Regions from separate parts of the Homo sapiens genome. Here regions 2 and 3 are each linked to region 1. Evidence: fine-mapped expression QTL. A gene starts in region 1. Each other region holds a variant in brackets. All regions are shown on one strand. Distances are from middle to middle.

Evidence for each region.
Region 2: its variant is fine-mapped to the expression of MCFD2 in whole blood (TOPMed, PIP above 0.99).
Region 3: its variant is fine-mapped to the expression of MCFD2 in whole blood (INTERVAL, PIP above 0.99).

Annotation. Positions count from the first base shown.
Region 1 is chr2:46,909,892-46,919,218 of GRCh38, reverse strand. MCFD2 (multiple coagulation factor deficiency 2, ER cargo receptor complex subunit) reads left to right here and starts at 3,413. Exons shown (of 4, transcript NM_139279.6): 1 at 3,413-3,496. It also overlaps a transcript of TTC7A not described here. RefSeq lists an enhancer at 2,369-3,343 and a silencer at 3,347-3,426.
Region 2 is chr2:47,122,318-47,133,104 of GRCh38, reverse strand. STPG4 (sperm-tail PG-rich repeat containing 4) reads left to right here. Exons shown (of 7, transcript NM_001163561.2): 4 at 2,845-2,909; 5 at 3,110-3,164. Among named protein-coding and RNA genes, the nearest start is that of STPG4, 28 kb to the left of the region's middle. The variant C/T (reference allele first, on the strand shown) is at 6,289.
Region 3 is chr2:46,948,095-46,956,094 of GRCh38, reverse strand. TTC7A (tetratricopeptide repeat domain 7A) reads right to left here. Exons shown (of 20, transcript NM_020458.4): 2 at 5,569-5,732. Among named protein-coding and RNA genes, the nearest start is that of TTC7A, 11 kb to the right of the region's middle. RefSeq lists a silencer at 671-965. The variant T/A (reference allele first, on the strand shown) is at 3,205.

The DNA of each region.
Region 1 (9,327 bases):
TTTTCTATTTATTTTTCCAAATAAGTAATATGTAGTTTACAACATCAAAGCAATACTAAAAGGTGTAAATTGAAATCTTATTTTCACCCCTATTCTCATCCACTCTGGAATCCCCTACATAGGTAAAACATTGTCTTGAGACAATTCAAAACAGCTGAGGAAAGAGATGCCACCTAGAGGCCATTCTGGTATCTTGGGATGGCCGTCCTATCTCCTGATAAAGCCACCTCTCTGTCTCTACTTGTACTAGTTTCAACCTGAGTACACAAAGTAAATGGGGTATTTCAGCAAGGTTCCAAGTTATGAGACTCCTGGTTGCAGGTAAAGAGATCCTCTCTTACCTAGTCGTTACTTTCTTTAATCTCTGCTTTCAAATCAGTTATTTCCAACGTAGAGTTGCCCTTCTCTTGAAGGAGTCTGCTGAAAGCTACTAAAAAAGGCAACACTCACTAATGTTCCATATTGCTCGTGAGATTTCTCCAAAAATATAGCATTGGTTGGCATGTGGCCTATATCCAAGGTCCAGCAAGTGACAGTTTCACTACGGCTTATAAGGGTCACCAACTTTCCAGTTTGACATACAGTCTTTTAACACTGGCTACCTTAACCTCCAGTTAGCCAATTCCATATTTTAGTGTCTTGTTTTTAGCATCCTGCTTCTGGTACCAAATTATTTGCCTGTTAGGAATGGGTTCAGCTACAAGTTACAGAACACCCACCTATAAAATGGCTTAATCAAAGGTGGCTTCTCACTTATGGACTACAGTAGGGCAAGAATGGAAGCAGGACGGTCAGTTAGGAAGCTCTCTCTCAAGTAGTCCAGCAGCATCATCTACTACTGGACTAGATGGTTTAGTGGAGGTGGAAAGAAGTCAAAGACTCAGGATACATTTTGATAGCATCAACAGGCTTTGCTGAAGGATTTAAAGGTAAAGGGATGAGATAAATCAAAAACAGCTCGTAGAATTTTAGCTTGAACAACAGAATGAGTACCAGTGACATTTACTAAAATGCACAAGACTGAGAGAGGTGCAGGTTTGGGGGTGAAAATCAAGATTTTGGGGGGACACATTAAGTTTGAGATGCCAGTCTGACATTCATATGGAGACATCAAGTAGGCAGTTATTTACAGGAGCCAGGAATTACACAGAGAGGTCATTGTCAGAGAGACATATTTTGGAGTCATCTATTTATAAATGGTATCTAAAGCACAGGACTAGGTAAACTCACATAGGGAGGGTGGATAGAGAAGGTGACTCAGAACAGAACCCTGGACACTTTGATAATTATAGATTGAGAAGCCAATTAAGAAGCCCAAGAAAGGATAATGAGTGAGGTAGCAGAAGGACCCAGAGTGTGTGGTGTCAGAAAACAAGAGAAGAAAGTGTTTCTAAGTGAGAGTGGTTGGCTTTGATAAAACAGTGTTGAGAGGGCAAGTAAAATAAAAACAAGAGATCAAAGAGACCACTAGATTTGCATGGAGATTGCAGTTTCAGTGGTATGGTGGGGGAGAAAATACAGCAAGTTTATATGTTGATGGGAATTATCTGGTAGAGAGGGAGTGACTGTAGATTCAAGAGAGACATAACACAGGATAACATCCATAGGAAAAAAATGAAAGCACTGGCTAGAATGAGGACACTTTATCCATCTACCAGACACCAGCTTCTTGACACTTCATTTGTCTTATTTGTATCTCTAGTAGCTCCTAGTAGAGCGCCTAGTACATAGAAGATATTCAAGAAATGTTATTGAATGAATAAATGAACAAAGGGAGGGGTGGATGAATGGATGAAGAGATGGATGAATGGCAGATGCAGGGTAGAAGGAGGAACTAGATCAAACTAATCCAAAGTTCAGAGTAAGGAAAGAAGAATGGGTCTTGAATTAATAGGGTTTCCTCAAAACTTAGGGATTCTTTGTCCCGGCGCGGTGGCTCACCCCTGTAATCCCAGCACTTTGGGAGGCGGAGGTGGTGGGAGGATTGCTTGAACCCAGGAGTTCGAGACGAGCTGGGCACCATGGAGACTCTTTTCTTTAAAAAAAGAAAAAAAAATTAGGGATTATGGGATTTTTCTCTGGGATGGGGTGGCAGATTTCAATCTCAGATGAAGGTGGGAAAAGGAATGAGACCGTCAATGGCAGTGGCGTTAGGCAACTTTCAAGGCATCTAACTACTTAGCCACTTTCTTTGTCTTTCCTGTCCGGACCCAGGCTCATTTGAAAAACGATTATGTACCTTTATGGACAGAAATGGGAGAAGGGCTTTAAAAAAAACGACCGTCCTGCCGGGAGTGGTGGCTCACGCCTGTAATCCCAGCACTTTGGGAGGCTGAGGCGGGAGGATCAAGAGGTCAGCAGTTAGAGACCAGCCTGGCCAACACGGTGAAACCCCGTCTCTACTAAAAATACAAAAATTAGCCGGGCAAGGTGGCACGCGCCTGTAATCCCAGCTACTCGGGAGGCTGAGGTAGGAGAAGAGCTTGAACCTGGGAGGCGGAGGTTGCAGTGAGCCGAGATCCCACCACTGCACTCCAGCCTGGGACAGAGCGAGACTCCGTCTCAAAACAAAACAAAACAAAACAAAAAAACAAAACGACCGTCCTACACTCATTTATCCATCAGGTCAATGGATACTTACTGAATGTTAATCTTGTATAGGAGCACAGGTGTAAGGGCAGGATTATACAGGGATGAATTCGATACAGGGATGATGTATTCGTTTCCCTATTTGTTCATGAGTCTGTTTTTAAGTAATCTGTCCTCTCTTGAATGTCAAAAGCTGCTGATTTCACGAACGGTACATGGAAGATGGTATTTGAACTGGGTCGCATAGTCTTGCTGGGACTCCCGTGGAAGCGAACGGGGACAGCGGCTGCCGCAGCTTGTGCAGTGGAGCTGGCAGACGCTGGAAGCAGGCCAATCTTGAAACGTAGGGTCCAAGGCCGGCTCCAGCGTGTTGTGGTCGTTTCATCAAGAAGGAATTAGCATTCCTATTATCTTTCTTCCCAACTTGCAGCAGGACGAACCAAGAGACCTGAACCAAGAGCCCTGTATAGGAGGGGGTGAGCGGAGTTGGGAGCCAGCTTTGGGGTCCGCCCCATCCGGATCCGCCATCCTACGTCGCCCGTGGAACTACGTTCCTGAGGGCTTCCGGCGTTGCCTAGCAACTGCCGGGCCCCTAGGGCGTCCAGCGGCCCAACTGGAGTGGAGCCGAGTGTCGCCCTTGGGAAAGCAGGTAGAAGAACTGCGTCAGTCCCGCCAGTGCTGGGCCCGGGCCGATTACACGTGGACTCACGCGAGCCGTCCTCACAGCCCGCCGCCGCCAGCGGGAGGGGCCCGGCGGCGCCAATGGGCGGGCGGCAGGGAGCGCGCGTGCGCAGGGCAGGTCGGGGGGGGGGGGGGGGCGGGGCGAAGCCGAGGAAGAGCGTTTTGGGGACGGGGGCTGGTGAGGCTCACGTTGGAGGGCTTCGCGTCTGCTTCGGAGACCGTAAGGGTGAGTGAACTAGCGCACTCTCCGCAGCGGGCGGGATCCCGGCGCCTCTCCTGTGGGCTGGAGGCTTGGGCTCAAGATGAGAGGCAGGAGTAGTCTGGGGGCGCGGGCTGGGCCCCCAGGCCGTCTCGGGACGCTTAACCGGCTAGGAGCACGGCCTGTCTCCCGGGGCGGAAGCCTGTGCCCCACCGGGGGCTCTGGAGCCAGACGGGGCCGACTGGGCAGATCTCCGCCCCCTTCCCTGGTCCCTAGGGGCCCGAGGATCGGCCTGTGGGACCAGCTGTGTCGGGTGGACACTGCTCCTGGCCCGGCCCAAAAGCAGCGGGCCGGAAGCCTTACTCTCCCTCTGCTCCTTGTTCCCTCTCTCGGGGAGACCACAGGTCCTGTCGGGCCCGGCGGGGGAAGCTGATCTCCTGTTGTATTCCCTCTCTGGGCATGGCCATCCACCCGGGTGCCCAAGCCAGAATTGGGCATCATTCTCACTTGCTTCACTCCTTTACCCACCCACATCGAATCCCTTGCAAAGTTGTCTTGGATACGTTCATTCTCCAGTCCCATCCCCCTGCCCTACCTAGTTCAGGCCACCTTTTCTTCTCTGGACTACCTCGGTGTCTTCCTGATGATCCCTGCATCTCTTCTTCATCCTCTGTAGTTTGTTCTATACAGAGAGGCTACAGCCATGGTCTTAAAACAGAAATCTGATCATGTGACCAGAAGCGTCCCCCCATTCCCTTATCACCCTTTGGTGGATTCTCATTGCTCTTCCAAGCTCTTGAACGGGGCTTGCAAAGCCCTTCATGACCTGTCTTCCTTTAACTTTAGATTCATTTGTCTCGACTGTACTGTGTCTTCAACCATACTGAATCTTTTTTGGTTCTTAGATCAGAACAAGTTCCTTCTGGGCTTACATGTTCCTTCAGTATGTTCGCTATGTCTGAGGCACTGTCCTTTGGTTGAAATAATCCTTCTTATCCTTTATGTGTTATTTCAGGTGTCAGTTGGGGATTTCGTGGTACCCCATGGGTGTCTGCCTGCCGGTCTCTCTTTTCTACCAGGTTGTAATCTGTGTGAGAGGAGTTTGTCGAGGTCATAGTACTATCTTCAGTACCTTGTGCTGTTAGTACGGTCATTAAATGTATAAATGCAGCATGGGTGCTCCTTGGGCTCCCTAGATGAACAAATAGATCAAGTTATTAATATTAAATGCCTGCTTTTTCAGAACCAATTCTCAACCCTCAGTCCGTGTAGAGGTTTCTTTAGCTTAGGAAGTTGGTTATTTTCTTGCCTTCATTCCAGGACCATGACAGGGGTAAGTGACAAAGTACTGGTCAGTTTTTCTTTGGCATTGGCTGTGGGTACAGGATGTCTGGATGTTGGTGAGTTTGGCTGCTTTGGGTTTGAATTCTTAACCAAGGGCCCCTTGAGGGAGAAGCTGCTACTAGCTGCTGGCAGGAAGGCTGGCCCCAAACTTAGTGCTGATAGGACTGATGACACACCAGGAAGAAAGGGTTGGGCCAGGTCAAACCACTGGAAGCCTCCAAAGGAAGTTCCAGCTTAGGCTAGATCCGCTGTGGGATAGGGAACAATACACCTAGGTGCCAAGACTCACTTCCCTGATTCAGCGATGAGCCAGGTCAGCTCAGCAGAGATCAGTAAGGTAAATGAGAGCCAGAGGAGAGAGGGTCCTGACTCTCAGAGAGGGAGGAAAAGAGAAAAATGGAAAAGGAGAACAACCTGTGATCGTATGTTCAGGTCAAATGAGTGTGAGAGGCTACAGACTGAGGTCGGATGAGAGAGCAATTGGTCTTGGCTGGAAGAATCCTGAGGTGACATTTGAACCTGTCCTGGAAGGAAGTTGGAGATGGACAGATGGAACCAGTAGGAGCGGAGGCTGTGGTACAGGAAGAGGCTGGCAGAGCAGGAGGGGAGCACTGTGACAGCCAAGGCACTGGGAGGCGCACTGCTCCTGATGGTCCAGCACTGCCCTCCCAGGACTGAGGCTGCGCCTTGTGAGGGCTGTCTCAAGGTATGGGTTGTGCCCTGAAGTCCCTTTGCAGAAATTTCTCCTCCGTTGGGTTTTTCTTCAGCCTGGCCTTTATAATTTCCTAAAGAAGGCCAGTGAGCTGGGGCTTATCTTCAGGCTGTTAGCCCATGGCCTTGAGCTAAGTAGTTAGAGCATGGATGATGCAACCTGTTATTTGGGTAGAGGGAGTTGCTTATGCTTTCTCTTGACTGTCAGCAGTTTAATTTGTTAGGTGGCAGTTAGATTCCCTGTTTTCTATCTTTCCCTCCCTCGCCTGCCTTCTTTCCTTTCTTCCTCTCTCTCTCTCTCTTTTTCTAATTAGAGAGGGAGTCTCACCATGTTGTCCAGGCTGGTCTTGAACTCCTGGGCTCAAGTGATTCACTTGCCTCAGCCTCTCAAAGTATTGAGATTACAGGCATAAGCCACCATGCCCAGCCCGATTCCCTGTTTTCAGTGTACCACTTGGAGGAATTTTTTTTCTTTATGTTTATCGATTTGGCTTTTGTTGCATTCCAATGATTAGAAACCTGCAACAGCAAACCAAAATGAGACAAGTTCAAAATCAGTGATTCTTGGCCTTTATCCCACCTCCCTTAAAGAAGGGATATTTTGGACTCATAGTTACTACATGATTAATCACTTGGTTGCTTTTTGGTGTTATCTAAATAGAATTTCCCCCACCCCCAACACACACACACCAAATTGATATACTAAGCATCCAATCACATAGTTGGAGGAAATGGTGCCATGAGTTCCATGATAGATATCTCCAAAAGAAAAGTTTCATCTTCAGTTACAGTGACATTAAAAATTGGCAGCATATCTGCAAAGGTGGTAATCCCCCCAGCTCCCCAAGGACCATGGCACACAGGCTAAGAACCAGCAGCTTCTGTTCCAGGCACTGTGCCTGATACTGGGAATGTGGATTCAGTCCAAGTCCTCTTAAAGCCCATCCAGCAAGGGGCACTGACAAGTAATCAGGCAGTTTTTCAAGAATTCATTCACACACAAGAAAACAAAAGAAAAAAAAGAATTAATTTGCAGCTGTCATCAGCTGTGGACGGGAGCCTTCTGAAGGGAAGCACTTGGGAGCCTGCAGGACGAATACCTACACCAGACTTGGAATTGAAAAGACCTCACTGGAGAAAGAGACATTTGATGTAAATGAGTCTGAAAGGCTTGGGAGGAGCTTGATTCCCTTCTCTGATCCTTCCTGTCCCAGAACTCTAAGATGTGTGGTCAGAACAAGTTGTTCTGCTATGGCCTAGGCAGTCACTGCTAGGAGTAACCTGAAACCTTGTTTTGTGGTACCAGGTACAGTGGCAGTGGCCTTGTCAGGGTCTGGACACGTTTAAAAAATTTTTTTGAGACAGTCTCACTCTCTTGCCCAGGCTGGAGTGCAGTGGTGTGATCTTGGCTCACTGCAATCTCTGCCTCCCGGGTTCAAGCAATTCTTGTGCCTCAGCCTCCCAAATAGCTGGGATTACAGGTGCACGCCACCATGCCCAGCAAATTTTTTTTTGTATTTTTAGTAGAGACGCATTTTGCCACATTGGCCAGGCTGGTCTCAAACTCCTGACCTCAAGTGATCCACTTGCCTCGGCCTCCCGAAGTGTTGGGATCATAGATGTGAGCCACTGTCCCTGGCCAAGGTCTGGGCACTTTTATTTGGTAAAATTGGAAGTGTAGTTTCTGACTGTTTCTGAATTATTTTGTGGAGATAAGAATTAACCGGAAACTCCTTTTGTATCCGATCCATATAGTATTGGGACAAAATTATGGGATAGATTACATTGAATACATATTCATAAAAAATGGTAGCAGATCTCGGCTCACTGCAGGCTCCACCTCCGGGTTCATGCCATTCTCCTGCCGCAGCCTCCCAAGTAGCTGGGACTACAGGTGCCCGCCACCACGCCTGGCTAATTTTTATTTTTGTATTTTTAGTAGAAACGGGATTTCACCGTGTTAGCCAGGGTGGTCTCGATCTCCTGACCTCGTGATCTGCCCGCCTCGGCCTCCCAAAGTGCTGGGATTACAGGCACGAGCCACCATGCCGGCTGAAAATCACAATTCTAATCTCATGTCTCAAGATAATCTTTGTTATTAGTTTGTGTAGGAAATACACATTTTTATTTTACAAAAGTGTATTATTCTTTATTGCTTTTTTGCAGCCTGTTCTTTTTCATTCAATATATATTGAGCATTCTTTCCTATTAAGTATGACATATTGCTTTTTTTTTTTTTTAAACTACAGATATAAAAGGTCTGAGGTGGCCGGGCACGGTGGCTCATGCCTGTAACCCCAGCACTTTGGGAGGCCGAGGCGGGTGGATCACCTGAGGTCTGGAGTTCGAGATCAGCCTGGCCAAGATGGTGAAACCCTGTCTCTACTAAAAACACAAAAATTAGCTGGACGTGGTGACATGCACCTGTAATCCCAGCTACTCGGGAGGCTGAGGCAGGAGAATTGCTTGAACCTGGGAAGCGGAGGTTGCAGTGAGCCAAGATTGCGCCACTGCACTCCAGCCTGGCGAAAGAACAAGACTCTGTCTCAAAAAAATAAAAATTAAAAAATAAAAGGTCTGAGACAGATTGCATTTTGATGTCACTGTTTAGAAGTAGACTAGATTCTAGGTGCTTTTTAGCACCCTGGAAGTTTCTTCCTTTTTTTGGTGGTGGAGGACAGGGTCTCACTCTGTTACCCAGGCTGGAGTGTACTTCAGCCTTGAACTCCTGGGCTCAAGCAATCTTCCTATCTCAGCCTCCTGAGTGGCTGGGACTATAGGGGTGCACTGCTACGCTCAGCTAATTTTTTATTTTTTGTAGAGATGGGGGTCTGACTGTGTTGTCTAGGCTGATCTCAAACTCCTGGCCTCAAGTGATCCTCCTGCCTCAGCCTCCCAAAGTGCTGGGATTACAGGTATGAACCACCATGCCTGGCCTATCCTGGAAGTTAGACATCCCAGTGACTATTGTCCCCTTTAAGGAGGGGGCCATGGGAAGCAATACTGGTAATGGGAAAAACGGATTTGGGAAATTTTTCTAAGTGTTGTAGGGTGGCATACTCACACTTTCAGGGTTCTGCCCTGAGAGCCTTTTAGGATGGGTAAGAGGGACTATAACACCTCTACCTCTCAGCCCCAGGCACAAAGACAGCTACAGCTTCTGAGCTGAGCCCTGTGTGTAGCATGTAAAGGGGATGACCAGTGCCTTATGGTTTGTCTTTACCACTGCTGGTTTGGGGCTGTGGACTACAATTGACCTGTTAGAAATCCCTGGCCTTGTTATCTAGCAGAATCTGTTTTGCCTGTTGGGAAGTGAGTGTTCGGTCAGGTCTTTTGTTTTTGTATGTAGGTCACCTGGCTGTCCTTCACCTTCCTTTTTGAGGTCAGTCTGTCAGCCCTAGGACAGACCAAGACTTTCCATTGAATCAACAATTATTAAAGGCCTGCCTGACCCTTGGCGGGTAATACTGGTGGGGTTAAAGTTCTCCCTGCCCTCCAAGAGCTTGCTCTGTAGCTGACTGTCATCTTATTGACCACAATTCCAAGTGTGGCCAAACCCTGGGAGTTCCTGATGGCATCCTGATTTCTCTGTAACTTTTCTTTCCAGTGCCCGCTCACTGTAGTTACTTGCCACTGTTACCACCCAGGAGGTACAGAACCTTGTCCGCTGCCGCAGACCTTGATCTGACCCGCCTTACCACTCCCTTGGCTACCATGCTCCTGCCTCTAGTCTTGCTTTTGCCACTTCATGCCTTCCCCACTGTGCTGCCAGATGAGTCATTCTGAAACCAAGCTCTGATCTC
Region 2 (10,787 bases), 210 kb before region 1:
AATGGAACCAAGTTTAGCAATGAACAGGAAAACAGTCTCCTACATAAAGCAGCTGACTATTCAACACTTTATGAAAAAAAAGCCCCCTTTCAATTACGTTAAGTAGCAAAGAATGGTAAATGCCAAGTATAGTAGGACAAATATAGATGTTACAGGTAACCAATATTCCTTTCCAGAGTAATGCTAATAGTTTTTCCATGAGCACTTCATTATGGAAATCTTACATGGATTGCTCAGTATAGATAAATAAATGACTGCTTTAAGAGGTTTTTTCCCCTTTTCAGTTTTCTTTTTTTGTCTCCTGTTTATATCTGTGTATGTGCGAGAGAGAGAGAGAAAGAAGCATAAAGCAAATATGCACATTTTAAAAACAGAAAGCAAACATCCACGTAATTGTCATCAGAATCAGGAAATAGGACATTGCTGGCCCCCAGGAATGCCCAGTTCAAATTGTGTTTCTGTGCTTCTATAAGACACAAGAATGACACAAGAATACCTTTGTTTCCTTGGTGTTTATGATGTCAAGTGAGCACTCAAGCAGCACAGGTGCATCAGGAAAATGCATATATTTCACCATTAAATTTGTATTGACTGTTATCATCACTCTATCCACAAAAAGCTGCTTCTGCAATCAAAGTTGTGTACTAATATGGGAAAGACAGCTGCAGGGTGAAATATAGTAGTGAACTTCCATGTGCCAGCGAGTGCTGGGAGGTAGATGCCTTTTTAACAAAAGCGGTATTGTTTCTTAAAATCTGACATAAAAATAATAGGGAGTGGAGGGGATTATTCACTTCAGGTCCTAGGATTTTATAATATAACTCTTCCCCTCCTCCCTGCCAGCTCTGGATGTCTGGATGATCTTCTCCTCCTGGCTTCTCATTCTCCTTCCTTCTTTCCCTACCTTCCTTCACATATCTTCCTATTTTTTTTTTTTTTTCAGAGTGAGTCTCGCTCTGTTTCCCAGGCTGGAGTCCAGTGGCACGATCTTGGCTCACTGCAACCCCCGCCTCCCAGGTTCAAGTGATTCTCGTGCCTCAGCTTCCCAAGTAGCTGGGATTACAGGTGCCCACCACCACGCCTGGCTAATCATTGTATGTTTAGTAGAGACAGGGTTTTGCCATGTTGGTCAGGCTGGTCTTGAACTTCTGACCTCAAGCAATCCACATGCCTCGGCTTCCCGAAGTGTTGGGATTACAGGCATTAAGCCTCTCCTGTCTATTTTAACCAGTTCCTGACATTCTTATATCATAACTGTGGGCTAATGTCCCTAGACCCAGGGGCAATGGAGCCACCCGGGTTGTTTGCAACAATTTCCTGATGGAAATAGTGTTAGATGTGAGGCCTCTCTTTCTTGGAAGACCCTTGCTTGAGCTCCTTGAGGAAGTCCTGCCTTTCTTAAAAGCCTCCCTCAAATCTCATCATCTTTGTCATCTTGAGGTCACCCAGTTGGATTTAATCTCTTCCTACCCCCATATCTTCAATCTGTCTTTTAGCACTGATGACAGTGGTTTATGTTAGGATTGTTTCTGTAGGTGCCTCTCACTCCTGCTGGTCAGGGACCGTAGCTCTCTTAACCACTGTATTCCCTAGTACTAGTGCTGCGCTTTACCCCAGAGCAGGCTCACTAAATGGCTGAATTGATTTGTTGAATCTAGAATATTTAAAGTGTGATCACGGCTGGACATAGTGACTCACATCTGTAATCCCAGCACTTTGGGAGGCCAAACTGGGTGGATTGCTTGAGCTCAGGTGTTTGAGACCAGCTTGGGCAACATAGTGAGAGTTTGTCTCTATTAAGACCAAGAAAATTAGCCAGGTATGGTGGTGCGCATCTGTGGTCCCAGCTATTTGGGAGACTGAGGTGGGAGGATCACTTGAGCCTGGGATGTCGAGGCTTCAGTGAGCTGTGATCACGCCACTGCACTCCACCGTGGGCAACAGAGTGAGACTTTGTCCCTAAATAAATAAATAAAAATAAGATGTGATCAGGTCAGGTACAGTGGCTCACACCTGTAATCCCAGCACTTTGGGAGGCTGAGGCAGGAGGATTGCTTGAGCCCAGGAGTTCAAGACCAGCCCGGGCAACATAGTGAGATCCTGTCTCTACAAAAAATAAAAAAGTAGCTGGGTGCAGTGGCACACACCTGAAGTCTCAGCTACTTGGGATGTGGAGGTGGGAGGAGCACTTGAGCCCAAGAGTTTGAAGCTGCAGTGAATTATGTTCATGCCATATCATTCTCCAGCCTGGATAACAGAGAACCTATCTCAAAAAAAGAAAAAAAAATGTGGCTGGGCACGGTAGTTCATGCCTGTAATCCCAGTACTTTGGGAGGCTGAGGCAGGTGGATCACTTGAGGCCAGGAGTTCAAGACCAGCCTGGCCAACATGGTGAAACCCTGTCTCTACTAAAAATACAAAAATTAGCTGGGCGTGGTGGTGTGCACCTCTAATCCCAGCTACTCGGGAGGGTGAGGCAGAGAATTGCTTGAACTGGGGAGGCGGAGGCTGCAGCGAGCGGAAATCACGCCACTGCACTCCAGCCTGGGCGACAGAGCGAGACTCCATCTCAAAAAAATAAAAAGAAAAACTGTGATCAATTTGACATTTTCCTATGCAGCATCTCAGGTATGCTGTCTATAAAATTCACCATGAAGACCGAATCTATGTTAAATGTTTTGAAGCTCCACCTTTGGAAATGTACATTTTCCTTTTCCACTATTAAAGTAAAGAAGGAATTATCCAATGTTGTATGGTCATAAAATAAAAGATTACGAATGACAGATAACGAAGTGAGTTTACAACCTCTATTAATCTATTGGTGTCCTTGTCCATTCTGTGCAGTCACTTCAGCTTTCTCCGGGGCAATACAACGTGCTTCCTGCACCAGTTCCCAAATATGCTTCCAGGTAATTATATACTTATTAAATAAGCTGCCTTTCTGTTTACATACCTACACGCCAATACTCCTGGCTTTTAAACCTCATTTATGCACCTCATATGCAAATTAACATTTTAAAATATTTAATGAAAGGTAGGGAATAAGTTAACAAAGATCTTTAAAAAATAGATTTAGAAAATCACTTTTCTTTTTTATTTTGAAATATAGGAGCTGTGTATTTCGCTCAACAGTTCAAAGATTCCCAACAACCTATTTTATTCCCGTAAGTATAATGTAGACAGTTAACTCATGATGAATTTGATGTTTAAAATACGCTGTGCTTTCTGGAGTGGAGCAAGGTGGCCACATAGAACCCTCCAGTGATCGTTCCCCCTAGCAGGAACACCATTATCCACACAATTATCCACACAAGAAAACACCTCTGTAAGAACCAAAAAGCAAGTGTGGGATCGCAATACCAGGTTTTAACATTGTATCAAGGAAAGAGGCACTGAAGAGGGTAGGGTAGAAAAGACAGTCTTGAATTACTGACACTACCCTCCCCCATCCCCTGGCAGCAGCCACGTGGCATGAAGAGAGAATCTGCCCTTGGGGAAGAGGGAATGCCGTGACGGGGGGACTTTGCACGGGAACACCGTGCTGCCTGTAACAGGGAAAGCAACACAGGACAGAATTCAGCTAGTGCCCATGGAGGGAGCATTTAGACCAGCACTAGCCAGCCAGGAATTGCCCATCCCAGCCGTTCGATACTGAGTTCCAGCTCTCCCTACCACTGTGGGCTGAAGTGCTCTGAGGTCCTAAATAAGCTTGAAAGGCAGTCTCGGCCACAAGGACTGCAGTTCCTGGGCAAGTTCAGGTGCTCTGCTGGGCTCAGAGGCAGTGGACTTAGGGTACACAAGACCTAGTGAGACACCAGCTGGGGCAGCCAAAGGAGTGCTTGTAGCAGCCATCCCCCAGCCCCAGGCAGCACAGCTTGCAGCTTCAAGAGAGAGGCCTTCCTTTTGCTTGAGAGGAGGAGAGGGGAGAGTAAAGAGGACTTGTCTTGAATCTGGATACCAGCTCAGCCACAGCAGAATAGGGCACCTCAGGCAGAGTCCTGAGGCCCCCATACCAGGCCCTAGCTCCCAGACAACATTTCTAGACACATCTCTGGCTGGAAGAGAATCCACTGCCTTAAAGAGAAGGACCCAGTTCTGGCAAGATTCATCACCTACTGACTAAAGAGCCCTTGGGCTTCGAATAAACACCAGCAGTGGCCAGACAACACTCACTGCAGGCCTTAGCCAGTGCTGTGCTGCTTCAGGTGTGATCCAGCACTTTCCCAGCTACAGTGGTCACAGAGAGAGACTCCTGCTTGAGGAAAGGAGAGGGAGGAGTAAAGGGGATTTTGTCTTGCAGCTTGGGTACCAGTTCGGCCACAGTGAAGTGGAGCACCAAGCAGGCTCCTGGGGTTCCCAATTCCAGGCATTGGCTCCTGGATGTCATTTCTGGACTCCCACTGGGCCAGAGGGGAGCCCACTGCCCTGAAGGGAGAGACCCAGGCCTGGCAGCCTTCCTCACAAGCTGACTGAAGAGCCTTGAGTGAACATTAGTGGTATCCAGGCAGTACTTGCTACAGGCCTGAGTGGCATAGAGAGATTCTTTCTGCTTGAGGAGAGGGGAGGGACGAGTGGAAAAACTTTGTCTTCTGGCTTGGGTGCCAGCTTAGCTGCAGTAGTATAGAGTACCCAATAAATTCCTAAGTTTCCTGACTCCAGGCCCTGGCTCCCAGATGGTATTTCTGATCTGCACTTGGCCCAGGGGGCAGCATGCTGCCTTGAAGGGAAGAGCCTTTGGGCCTTGAGTGAACATGGGCAGTAGCTAGGCGGTAGTTACTGCAGCCCTTGGGTGAGACCCAGTACCATGCTGGCTCTGACCCAGTGCAGTCCCAGGGATATTGGCCATAGAGGTGCTTGTGTCACCCGTCCCTCAGCTTTAGGCATCTCAGCACAAAGAGAGACTTCGTTTGTTTGGGGGAAGGGAAGGGAAGAGAACCAGAGTCTCTGCCTGGTAATCCAGGGAACTCGCTCAGATCTTATCCAAGACTACCAAGGCATTACCTCTACAAGTCTACCAGAATCACAGCAATTACTAGGCTTGGGGTGCCCTCTAATGCAGACACAGCTACGGTGACCAAAGACAGATTACAGCACTTAATTCCCTTTGAATACTTGGAGAGCCTTCCCAAGAAGGACAGGTACAAACAAGACCAGCTGCAAAGACTACAATAAACACCTAACTCTACAATGCCCAGACATCGGCAAACATATACAGGTATCAAGACCATCTAGTAAAACACAACCTCACCAATCGAATTAAATAAAGCACGAGTGATCAATCCCAGAGTGACACAGATATGTGACCTTTCAGACAGACACCTCAAAATAGCTGTTTTGACAAAGTGCAACAAAATTTAAGATGACACAGAGAATGAATTCAGAATTCTATCAGATAAATTTAGCAAACAAATCAAAATAATTTTAAAAAATCAAGCAGATACTCTGGAGCTGAAAAATTCAATTGACATGCTGAAGAATACATCAGAGTCTCCCAATAGCAGAACTGATCAAACAGAAGAAAGAATTTGTGAGCTTGGATGGGGTGCAGTGGCTCATGCCTGTAATCCCAGCACTTTGGGAGGCTGAGGCAGGCAGACGGCTTGAGGCCAAGACTTCAAGACCAGTCTGGCCAACATGGCAAAAGCTTGTCTCTACTAAAAATACAAAAAGCATCTGAGTGTGGTGGTGCACACCTGTAATCCCTGCTACTTGAGAGGCTGAGGCATGAGAATCGCTTGAACCTGGGAGGCGGAGCTTGCAGTGAGCCAAGATTGTGCTGCTGCGCTCCAGCCTGGGCAACAGAGTAAGACTCTGTCTCAAAAAAAAAAAAAAAAAAAAAAAAAAAAAAAAAAGAATTAGCTTGAAGACAAGCTATTTGAAAATACAGTCAAAGGAGACAAAAGAAAAAAGAATGAAGCATGCTTACAAAATCTATAAAATAGCCTCAAAACGGCAAATCTAAGAGTTATTGGCCTTAAAGAGATAGAGAGAGAGATTGAAGTAGAAAGTTTATTCAAAGGGATAATAACAGGGACCGTTCCAAACCTAGAGAAAAATAGAAATATTGAAGTACAAGAAGGTTATAGAACACTAAGCATATTTAACCCAAATAAGACCACCTCAAGACATTAATAATCAAACTCCCAAAAATCAAGCACAAAGAAAGGATCCTAAAGCACAAGAGGAAAGAAGTAAATAACATACAATGGAGCACCAATACATCTGACAGCAGACTTCTCAGTGGAAACCTTATAGACCAGGAGTGAGTGGCATGACATATTTAAAGTG[C/T]CGAAAGAAAAAAACTTATCCTGGAATAGTATATTCAGTAAAAAATCCTTAAAATGTGAAGGATAAATACTTTCCCAGACAACCAAAGCTAAGGCATTTCAACACCAGACCTGTCCTACAAGAAACGCTAAAAGGAGTTCTTCAAATTCTGAAAGGAAAGGACATTAATGAGCAACAAGAAATCATCTGAGGCCAGGTGCAGTGGCTCATGCCTATAATCTCAGCACTTTGGGAGGCTGAGGCAGGAGGATTGCTTGAGTCCAGCAGTTCAAGACCAGCCTAGGCAACATAGAGAGACTCCATCTCTACAAAAAATTTAAAAATTACCTGGGCATGATGGCATGCACCTGTGGTCCCAGTTACTCAGCGAGGCTAAGGTGGGAGGATCACTCGAGCCCAGGAGGTCAAGGCTGCAGTGAGCCATGTGTGTGCCACTGCAGTCCAGCCTGGGCAACAGAACAAGACCCTGTCTGAAGAAGAAGAAGGAGAAGGAGAGAAAGAAGAAAGAAGAAAGAAGAAGAGGAAGAGGAGGAAGAGGAGAAAGAAGAGAAAGAAGAGGAAGGAAAGAAAGAAGAAAGAACCCTAAAACTTAACGTGGAACCACAAAAGACCCAGAATAGCCAAAGTCATCCTGAGCAAAATGAACAAAACTGAAAGAATCATATTACCTGACTTCAAATTATACTACAGAGCTATTGTAGCAAAAACAGTATGGTAGTAGCATAAAAACAGACATAGAGACCAATGGAACAGAATAGATAACCCAGAAATAAATCCATATATCTACAGTGAACTCATTTTTGACACAGGTGCCAAGAATACACATTGGGGAAAGGACAGTCTCTTCAATAAATGGTGCAAGGAAAACTGGATATCCATATGAAGATGAATGAAACTAGAACCCTATCTCTTGCCATTTTACAAAAATCAAATCAAAATGGATTAAAGACTTAAATCTGGCTGGGTATGGTGGCTCACGTCTGTAATCCTAGCACTTTGGGAGGCCAAGGCAGGAGGATCCCTTGAGCCCAGGAATTCGAGACCAGCCTGGGCAATATAGGGAGACCCTGTCTCTAGTTAAAAAAAAAAAAATTAAATCTAAGACCTCAAACTATGAAATTATCAAAACAAAACATTGAGGAAACTCCAGGACATTGGTCTGGGCAAAGATTTCTTGAGTGACACCCCACAAGCACAGGCAACCAAAGCAAAAATGTGTAAATGGGATCACATCAAGTTAAAAAGTTTCTGCACAACAAAGGAAACAATCAACAAAGTGAAGAGACGACCCACATAATGGGGGACAATATTTGCAAACTATCCGTCTGACAAAGGATTAATAACCAGAATATATAAAGAGCTCAAACAACTCAATAGGAAAAAGGTCTTTTTTTTTGAGACAGCGTCTTGCTTTTTCACCCAGGCTGAAGTGCAGTGATGCAAACACAGCTCACTGCAGCCTCGACCTCCCTAGTGTAAGCAATCCTTCCCCTCAGCCCCTCAAGTAGCTGGGATTACAGGTGCATGCCACCACATCCAGCAAATTTTTGTATTTTTTTGTAGAAATGGGCTCTTGCCATGTTGCCCAGGCTGGTCTTGAACTCCTGAGCTCAAGCGATCTGCCCACCTTGGCCTCCCAAAGTGCTGGAATTACAGGCATGAGCCACCATGCCCAACCTCAATAGGAAAAAAATCTAATAATTTGTTTAAAAAATAGGCAAAAGATCTGAATAGACATTTCTCAAAAGAAGACATACAAATGGCCAACAGGTGTATAAAACGGTGCTCAACATCGTTAATCATCAGAGAAATGCAAATCAAAACTACAATGAGATATCATTGCATCCCAGTTTAAATGACTTATATCCAAAATACAGGCAATAGTGAATGCTGGCGAGGATGTGGAGAAAAGGGAACCCTTGTACACTGTTGGTGAGAATGTAAATTAGTACAGCCACCACGAAGAACAGTACAAAGGTTCCTCAAGAAAGTAAACATAGAGCTACCATATGATCCAGCAATCTCACTGCTGGGTATATACCCAAAAGAAAAGAAATCAGTATATTGAAGAGGTATCTGGTGTTTGTTGCAGCACACTGTTCACAATAACCAAGATTTGGAAGCAACCTTAGTGTACATTAGCAGATGAATGGATAAAGAAAATGTGGTACATATACACAACAAAGTACTACACAGCCATAAGAAATAATGAGGTCCTCCTATTTGCAATAACATGAACAGAACTGGAGGTCATTATGTTAAGTGAAATAAGCCATGCACGGAAAGGCAAACTTTGCATGTTCTCATGTATTTGTAGGAGCTAAAAATTATTAATAAAACAATCAAACTCATGCAGATAGAGAGTAGAAGGATGGATACCAGAGACTAAGAAGGGTAGTGGAGGATGGAGAAAGGGGAAGTGGAGATGGTTAATGGATACAAAGATATAGTTAGATAGAATGATAAGATCTAGTATTTGATAGCACAACAGGTGATTATAGTCAACAATAATTTATTGTACATTTAAAAATTGGCTGGGCACGGTGGCTCACACCTGTAATCCCAGCACTTTGGGAGGCAGGCGGATCATTTGAGGTCAGGAGTTCAAGACCAGCCTACCAGCCTGGCCAACATGGTGAAGCCCCACCTCTACTGAAAATACAAAAATCAGCCAGCTGTGGTGGCATGCGCCTGTAATCCCAGCTACTCAGGAGGCTGAGGCAGGAGAATTGCTAGAACCTGGGAGGCAGAGGTTGCAGTGAGCTGAGATCGCGCCACTGCACACCAGAATGGGCAACAGAGTGAGACTCCATCTCAAAAAAATAAATAAATAAATAAATAAAATAAAAATAAGAGTATAATTGGCATGTTTGTAACATAAAGAAATGATAAATGCTTGAGGTGATGGATACCCCATTTATCCTGCTGTTACTATTACACATTGTATGCTTGTATCAAAATATCTCATGTACTCCATAAATATATATACCTACTATGTGGCCATAAACATTTTTCAAAATAAAATATACTATGAATCCTTTTGCTATAGTAAGATTAACATTTTGCTCATCATAGTAGATAAGCTCTGAATGACTAATGCAATTGATTTAAGATATACATAAAGTATATCTGAAGATATACGAGAAATGAGTAACCAATTTGTGGCAAAGTGTAGAAGAAAATGTTCGGCTCCTTTACTTTCTTTAGGTCTTGACTGAAATACCACTTTCTCAGGAAGGTCTTCCCAAGTCACCTATTCAAATTTGCTGTCCCCTTCCTTGGTTTATTTTTTACTTCATAGCATTCATAACTGTCAGACACAATACCTTTTAAAATGTATCTACTCTGTTTTTATCTTTCCCCCTCACTAGAACGTAAGCTTATGAAGGCAGGGATTTCTTTCCTGTATACCTAGCACCTAGGCAAGTGACTGGCACATAGTATTTGGTGAATTAATTAATTAAATCGCTAGAGATATTCAATAGATCATGGTATTAACAAAAAGGAAGCACCTCTCTGTTTCTTTCCTTTTAAAGATATGAAAATGCTTTTCTATTTCTAAATATTTCCAAATGCATGACCATGAGTTATGATAAAAAATGAACTCTTTTAGATAAATAGCTAGTCAGTAGGATGTCAAAAAAATAAATAATTATATAAATCATCTGAAAGAATAAGAAAATATAAAATTGGCTGGGCACAGTGGCTCACGCCTGTAATCCCAGCACTTTGGAAGGCTGAGGCAGGCGCATCATTTGAGGTCAGGAGTTTGAGACCAACCTGGCCAACATGGTGAAACCCCGTCTCTACTAAAAATACAAAAATTAGCTGGGCGTGGTGGCATGCGCCTGTAATCCCAGCTACTCAGGAGGCTGAGGCAGGAGAATGGCTTGAATCCGGGAGGCGGAGGTTGCAGTGAGCCAAGATCACACCACTGCTCTCCAGCCTGGGCAATAGAGTGAGACTCAGACTCAAAAACAAAAACAAAAACAAAACAAACAGACAAACAAACAAAAAACAGAAATAAAATATAAAATTGTTTTGGGATAGTTTGATGCACTATAATTTATTTGTAGTTACAAACTCAGGATCAAAAAAGACCGCATAGCAAACATCTGCAAAAAAAAAAATTGAGAAAACTGAACAGAGCTCAGAAACAGATCCTAGAATATATTAATACAAGATTTTTTTATTAATACAAGATTTTTATATTTGATAAAGATGGTATGACAAGTCAGTAGGGAAAGGAAAAGATATGTTAGGTAACTTATTATTAAATAACTTGGAAAAGGTGTTAGATTCTCACTTCATAGCACACATTAAAATAAATTTCATATTGATTAAAAAATTTGATACTTTTGAAGCCATTAAACCAGGAGAAAATATATTAGTATATATCTAAGGATAAGCAAACTTTCTGAGATAATAGCAATGGAAGAAATTTCAAAGGAAAATAAATACTAGATTTGATTATATAACATTAAAAATGCTTTGTATAT
Region 3 (8,000 bases), 38 kb before region 1:
CTACTGTGGCTTGGGATCCTGTGCTGTTGCCTGAGGGAGGCTGTGCTGGCCCTGGGCTGTGCCACCCTGGCACGTGAGTTCTGACCTTGGACATGGCCCCAGTTCTCCTTGTAACCTCCCGCCTCTGCAGGCCATTTGCTCTGGCCCCCTGCCTCTGATCCTGTCCTCAGCTGGCTCACAATGCCTATGGGCCAGGCCCTGGGCACTGCTCCCGCCACACAGGCACCAATCTGTCCATAAAACTCCCCGAAGATGCAGCTCTCATCCCACACCTGGCATTTGTCACTGGCAGGAAGGTGCTACCCCTGTCTCCCTGTAGGGAGGTAAGAGTCTGGGGTCCCTGTGACCCCAGGGCAAGCCTCCAGCACTCCTTACCATCTACTGCCCTCTCAGAAGCCAAGAGAAATGAAGCGTGGCACAGACAGGCTCTGGGGAAGCCAAATTCACCTTCCCAACTGGTCCTTCTGGCCTTTGTAAATCCACATTCCTCTTTTGCCTGTGCTTCCTCAGGTCCCCTTCCCCCTGGCCTAACCAGGTCCTCTTCTATCCTTTGGGGCCTTGCTCAGGCCCACCTTCTCCTGAAAGCCTCCTTGACTACCAGGGAGCTCCCTTCAGCTGAACTCCTCCAATGCCTCTACCAATGGGCCCATTCAGCCTCTGCACGCCTGACCTGCTCTCTCTATTAATTAACTCTCCAAAGCTGAATCTTTTGAGGGGATTTGCTAGTCTTCCCAGATAGGCCATCCACTCCCTGGGCCAGGGCCACAGATGACACATCCCAGAGGTATGTGGCCCACAGTCCTTCCAAGCTGGGCAGTGACTCTGCGTTCCCTGCACTGGTCTCAAGCCACGGGCTCATTTCCTCCCTGCTCGGGCTGCGTCTTCCTCGTGGGTGAGGGAGAGATAATAACACCTACTCCTCACTGCCTATCACAGCGATGCTGAAGGCATTAATAGGGCAAAGTCCAGAAAAGAGCTTTGAACTTTTCTTTGGAAAAGAGCAAGATAAATACAGGGTATGCGTATTTATCATTATCCTGCACATGGAGACAAGGGCAGTGAGGCAGAGAAGGACATTTCAGGCATGCTGATGGGGTGTGGCTAGTGGCGGTTCCTGGAGGACCAGTGGCAGTTTACAACAGAGCTTCCACCAAGCTGGGGAAAAATTAGACAATGCAGGGCATGTTTTATAAAGCCACATTTACACTATTTAAAAAAATGCTCGGCCGGGTACGGTGGCTCACGCCTGTAATCCCAGCACTTTGGGAGGTCGAGGCAGGCAGATCACCTAAGATCAGGAATTTGAGACCAGCCTGGACAACATGGTAAAACCCGTCTCTACTAAAAATACAAAAATTATCCGGGCGTGGTGGTGGGCGCCTGTAATCCTAGCTACTTGGGAGGCTGAGGCAGAAGAATCGCTTGAACCCGGGAGGCGGAGGTTGCAGTGAGCCAAGATCGTGCCACTGTACTCCAGCCTGGGTGACAGAGCGAGACTCCGTTGTCTCAAAAAAAAAAAAAAAAAAAAGGCTCTTAGTTCTGAAAGGATATCTACCTTGCCCTTTCAATGCTAAACTGTTTTTCTGTTATAGCACAGTAAGAGCAGAAGATGGTATCATTTTGCTGCTATTTTTTGCTTCTTAATGTCCTTACTTGGCAACATTAAGAGTCCACTGCACTCTGTGGGGCCCATGCATTTGAATGTGAAATATTCTTGGTCTATCAGTACAACAGTCAGGGAACGGAACCCCTTGCCCAGTGGGAGGGTGCCACGGGGGAGGTCGCTTTACCAGAGGAACAATCCCCTCTACTGTGTGGATCAGCGCATCACCTACTCCTTTTGTGCCTCACTGTCCCTGTCAATAAAAGGGGAAAAAGGACTTCATGGAGATATCCAGGTATGAGGAAAGAACGGATGAGGAAATACTTCACAGACTAACGTGGGAACTATAAAAGTGGGGGTGTGATCACCATCTTTCACATGAATCCAACTTTCCCAGTCATTATTTTATTTCCACCCCAGTACTCTGGGAGGCAGTACCAAGAAATGAGAGACAGCATTAGAGCATGGGCTGTAGACACTAAAGGCCTGGGTTGTGATCACCTTTCTTGGGTCTCAAGAGATGGAGCTTGGCAGGGCACAGTGGCTCACACCTGTAATCCCAGCACTTTGGGAGACCAAGGCAAGAGGATCGCTTGAAACCCAGAATCTGAGACCAGCCTGAGAAACACAGTAAGAACTGTGTCTCTACAAAAAATTGAAAAAAAAAAAAAAGAAAGAAAGAAAGAAAAAGAAATGGGGCTAATAGTAAATACCGTTGCAGAAGGTTCCTTGGAGGCCTGCATGCGATGGTGCAAAGCCTCAACCTAGTAGCAGAACAGAGTTTAGGACAAGTGGCTTGTTTTCACTGATCTCCACACAACTGAGCTGGACGGGGTCTTAGAGAGATAACCAAGAGGAAAGGGTTTCAAGCTTTCCCAAGGAGGGGCCTCAGGACCCACCTCTCCCAGCTCTCCTTCTCATCCAGCAGAGCTACTTGGATGCACAGGAATCCACCTGAGACTGCATCAGCTGCCAAGAAAGGTCACGCCAACTGTGACCTGATCTTTGCGGGTGAGATAGAAAATACTACAAATGATGGCCGGGCATGGTGGCTCACGCCTGTAATCCTAGCACTTTGGGAGGCACAGGTGACAGGACTGCTTGATCCCAGGAGTTTAAGACCAGCCTGAGCAATATGACAAGACTTTGTCTCTACAAAAAAATTTAAAAATTAGCTGGGTGTGGTGGTGCATGCCTATAGTCCCAGCTACTCAGGAGGCTGAAGCAGGATGATCACTTGAGCCCAGGAGGTCCAGTCTGCAGTGAGCCATGTTCACGCCACTGCACTCCAGCCTGGGTGACAGAGTGAGACCCTGTCTCAAAAAAGAATCCCACAAACGACATTTAATATATTATTTTACAGATCATCATTAAGTTTTTGGCTCTGGCCTGGATAACAGTAAATTTCTGCACATTATTGGTGCCTATATATGTCTTTGTTTAACAAAATATGGTACAATTTGTATTTAATAAAACCGTTGTCACAATACATGTGGTTACTATTCAGCCAATACAAAGAATGAGACAATACTGGCATGGAGAAAGCTCTAAATAAAACTTCTTGGTGAAAAATATATATCTTACAACTCTATGAAAAGAAA[T/A]ATCTGTGTGTATATATGTTTGTAAATGCACAAAGAAAGGCATAGGAGATGCACATCAAATACTGACCAGTGCTCAACTCTGAGGATGGGTGTGGGCATGAGGGTGAGGTTGGAAAACAAGAACTTTTTTTGTGTGTGTGAGACAGGATCTTGCTCTGTCACCCAGGCTGGAGTGCAGTGGCATGAACACAACTCACTGCAGCCCCAACCTCCTAGGCTCAAGTGACCCTCCAGCCGCAGCTTCTTGGGTAGCTGGGACCACAGGTGCAAGCCACCACGCCTAGCTAATTAAAAAAATTTTCTGTAGAGATGGGGTCTCACCATGTTGCCCAGTCTGATCTCAAACTTCTGGCTCAAGCAATCCTCCCACCTTAGCCTCCCAAAGTGCTAAGACTACAGGCGTGAGCCATAGGCCAGCTGGGACTTTTATTTATCACTCAAATTACTTATTTGTTGACTGGAATTTTTACAATAAGGCTGAATCATGTTTATTTTAAAAACAATTTTTAAATATTTAATTTAACATTTAATTATTAATTTAATATTTTTAAAACGAAAAGCGGTCTTGGTGGGAAAAGCTTGAACCCCACCAATCTGGTCCAACCCTTTTGACCAGCAGATGAGAAACTGGAAGGTCTGTGGGGTCAAGCATGCTCAGGGTCAGGCAGCTATTTTAACCCAATACAAACCTCCCAGTGCTACAATACCTGTCAAGGAGCCTAAAAGCAGTAACCTTAAACTTCTAGTACACACTCCCCTCTCCCCTGGCCTTTCCCTCCCTTACAAAATAAGCCCTGCACATCCTGGCCTGGTGTTCCAGTCTGCCCTTACTAGCCCCAAAGTACCTTTACAACCTTGTCTAGATCCAGCCCCAGAAGGATCCAATTCTAGTACTGCCATTACTCAGAGTCTGCTCTCTGCTTATCCCCAAAGAGCATCCCCCTCAGACTTGCTTCCTCGTGGATAGCACTCCTATCACGGTCTACCTTGGAGGAAGGCTATTTACTTGCTGATAGGACTTATCTTCCCAAGAGACCTGCAACCTCCTTGAGGGCAGGGTCCATGCTGGATTCGTCTTGATTGCCTTCAGAGTGCACAACACAATGCCTTGCACACAGTACGTTGGAATAAAAGGTTTAAGGAAGTGAATATATTACTTTGGAATAGCTCTTTAAAAATCAGCTGGGCGCAGTGCCTCACTCCTGTAATCCCAACGCTTCGGGAGGCTGAAGTAGGAGGATCGCTTGAGCCCAGGAGTTGGAGACCAGCCTGAGTAACACAGCGAGACCCTGAAGAAAATAAAGACAGACAGAAAGACAGAAAGAAAGAGAGAGACAGAGGGGAAGGAAGCAAGGAAGGAAGGGAGGGAGGGAGGGATCACTTCCTCTTTGAGTTTTTTTTTACCCCCTCCCCCTCCTCTTTTGAGTTTCTAATGACATACCCATGCCACTATTATAGTTCAGGATACATTGTAATCTAACACAGCCACAGCCTCAAACTTGGATGCACATATGAATCACCCAGGAGAGCTTGTTAAAACACAGATTCTAATTCTTAATTGCATTTCTTTTTTTTTTTCTCTTAATTGCATTTCTAACCAGCTCCCCAATGATGCCTACACTGCTGGTGGGTGGACCACATTTTGAGCAGCAAAGTCCAGAGAAAGTTGTGACCATACTCCTTCTGGGAGGGAGAGGTGGGTCCTCTACCTCCCTCAGTGTCTTGTACTCAGTAGGTGCTTGATAAATACACGTGGACTTAAATGGGCTTGCCCTGTTATGGAGCTCTTCTGTCCCTAGCCAACTCTGCATGTTTGCCTGTTTCTAACTAGGTCACAGGTTCACTGAGGTTTTATTTTCCTGAGAGCCCCCTGACCCAAGGAGCCCAAAGGGCCAGGCACATATTAAGTCAACCAAGCACTGTCCAAAAAAATATGATGTAAGCCACAAATGTGAACCACATGTGTAATTTAAAAATTTCTACTAAGATTTTTTTTAGTCACACTGAAAAAGGTAAAAGGTGAAATTAATTTTAATAACATGTTTTATTTAACCCAATATATCCAAAATATACCATCTGAACATGTAATCAACATAAAAAGTTACTGCTCTTTTCTATTCTTTGTTTTGTACTAAGTCTTTGAAACCTTGTGTATGCTTTATACTTACAGCACATCTCAATGTGGACTAGCCATACTCCAAGTGCTCAAGGGGCCATGTGCAGCCAGTGGCTACTGTAAGTGCAAGGGCAGCTTGTAAGAGAGACTTGTTGCTCAGGTGACCAAATGACTCAGGGAGGACTGGACAGATGCGAGGCAAGACAGACGAGGAGAGGAGGTCTCAGGCTTGAAGGCTGACGACTTACCGAGAGCCTCCCATGGTTAAGGATACTGCTTAGATAATTTTTGGCTTCGCTCATCTTCGGCTCATTCTTCTCCAGCAAAGGCATGGAGTCTTTTATTTTGGCATGGTTCTCCTTCAAACACTGCTCCAGGAGGGCCTCAGCCAGCAGCAATTTCCCAAAGTCATCTGAAAAGCAAAGTAGGGGTCAGAGCAGCAAACCCCGAACAAGGCGGATAATGGAGGGAGTTGCACACTCCTGGACCCACCCAACCACCCATACCCAGTACATGAATGGCTCAGGTCTGAGAAAATAAAGGCACATTTTTCATAAATTTCAACAGCCTTTAAAGAAAAGACACAGGCATTCTACTATGGTCACAATACAAATTGCCCCTTGGATTTATTTTCTGCTGTAGTTTAATGGTTGGGAAGACAGAGTTCCCAGGACTCGGGGACAAATTCCCAGAATTTCAGAATTTAAAATAAGGGACAAAGTCATACATATGCTGTGCTGTGGATAATAAGTTCTTAAACCAAGAAGAATTCTCCCCAAATGATTGAAGAGAAAAAATACATGAAGTGGTTTAATAATGTACTTTTACATGCTCCTAATTTCTATGTAACCATAATTGGTTTTCCCCATTTTTAAGTGTTTTTGTTTGTTTGTTTGTTTTAAACAGAGTCTCACTCTGCCACCCTAGCTGGAGTGCACTGGCATGATCATGGCACTCCCAGGCTCAAGTGACCCTCCTGACTCAGCCTCCCAAAGTGCTGGGATTACAGGCATCAGCCACCATACCATCCAGTTTTTAAGGTAATTTGACATGACTCAGGATAACCTAGCAGCCACAGTAGAGTTAGGTGGGAAGCAGATCTACTTGTTGCCAAGGCAAATCCTCGAACATGTTGAATACCTGCATTTTCTGGAGTTCTCTCACATATAGGGTATACCCGCAAATGAGGGTAGCTCATTTGCATCCCTCACCACCTGGTAGGTGGTTTTATACTGCTTGGTTTAGTGAGCGCAGTGGCTCACACCTGTAATCCCAGCACTTTGGGAGCCCAAGGCAGGCAGATCACTTGAGGTCAGGAGTTTGAGACCAGCCTGGCCAACATGGCAAAACTCTGTCTCCACTAAAAATGCAAAAATTAGCCAGGCATGATGATGGGCACCTGTAATCCCAGCTACTCGGGAAGCTGAGGCAGAACTGCCTGAATTCGGGAGACGGAGGTTGCAGTGAGCCGAGATCACACCACTGCACTCCAGCCTGGGCAACAAAGTGAGATTCTGTCTCAAAAAATAAAAATAAAGATAATATACTGCTTGGTTTATTTGCTGCCTCCCTTTACCACACTGAAAACTCGTCTTGTGACCACCAGATTCCTGCTACCTACAGCAGAGGTGGCTCGAGCATGGGAGCCGGGTGTTCAGTGTGCAGGGTCTGAGGTCAAGATGGTTTCACCATGGTTCTTGGGTGGCTGTGCTCATTGCCCCTCCCAGCAACTGGGGTGAGGAGCAGGCCCACCATTCAATATAAGCACTGAGTAAATACCTGTTGAGTGAATTGGATCCTCTCAACTACCCCACAGCGAAGCCATCAGGATCGAGAGTTAAGTGCCAATCCAAAAACATCCCTAGGAATGCCTGCTTGGTGCCATCTTTTTCAAAGTGCTCTTTTTGCTACCAGTACAGTGTTCTCAGATCTACAGGGCTGCCATTGCCTCCTCACTCTCAGGATACCACAGTCTGCTAACATCTCATAGCCACTAGTCCAAAACTGCATGCCTTAGCTGGGCACAGTAGTGCAAGCCTGTAGTCCCAGCTTCTTGGGAGGCTGAGGTGGAAGAATTGCTCAAGCCCAGGAGTTCAAGACCAGCCTGGGCAACATAGGGAGACCTCGTCTTTAGAAAAACACAAAAAACTTCATGCCTCTGAAGAAGAATCTCTCACCGTAAGGGAGATTCCCCACAGAGAACGGTTCTAAAGCCCAGAATCCCAAGAACACCATCGCAGGGGGGTTTCGTTCTGAAGGCACCTGTTATGGGATCCTTTGCTATGTACCTCATGACTTTTAAAATTAACATTTTAAGGAAATGGTCAAAAAAGTACCTGGTTCAAACTATCATTCATTGCTGGCAGACTATAAGTTGGTAGAACCTCTAGGGTAATTTGGCAACGTACATCAAAATTATTTTTGAACATCCCCATAGATCCAGTCAGTCAGAGCCACATTCCAGAGCTGTGGGCCTTGGGGAAAGTTGCTCCCTGCTTCTAACCTGCTTTGCCTCTGTAAAGCCAGGGGTGGGGTTTGAAGTCAGAGCCTAAAGAGGGAAACACACCCCTCAGGATGCTGGCCCCGTCCCCCAGCTGGTCCCCGCCTTGTTGCCCCCTTTCCTCTGTGCACTGGCAGGACTCCGTGCCCTTGGGCCACCGTGCCACCAGATACGGCACCA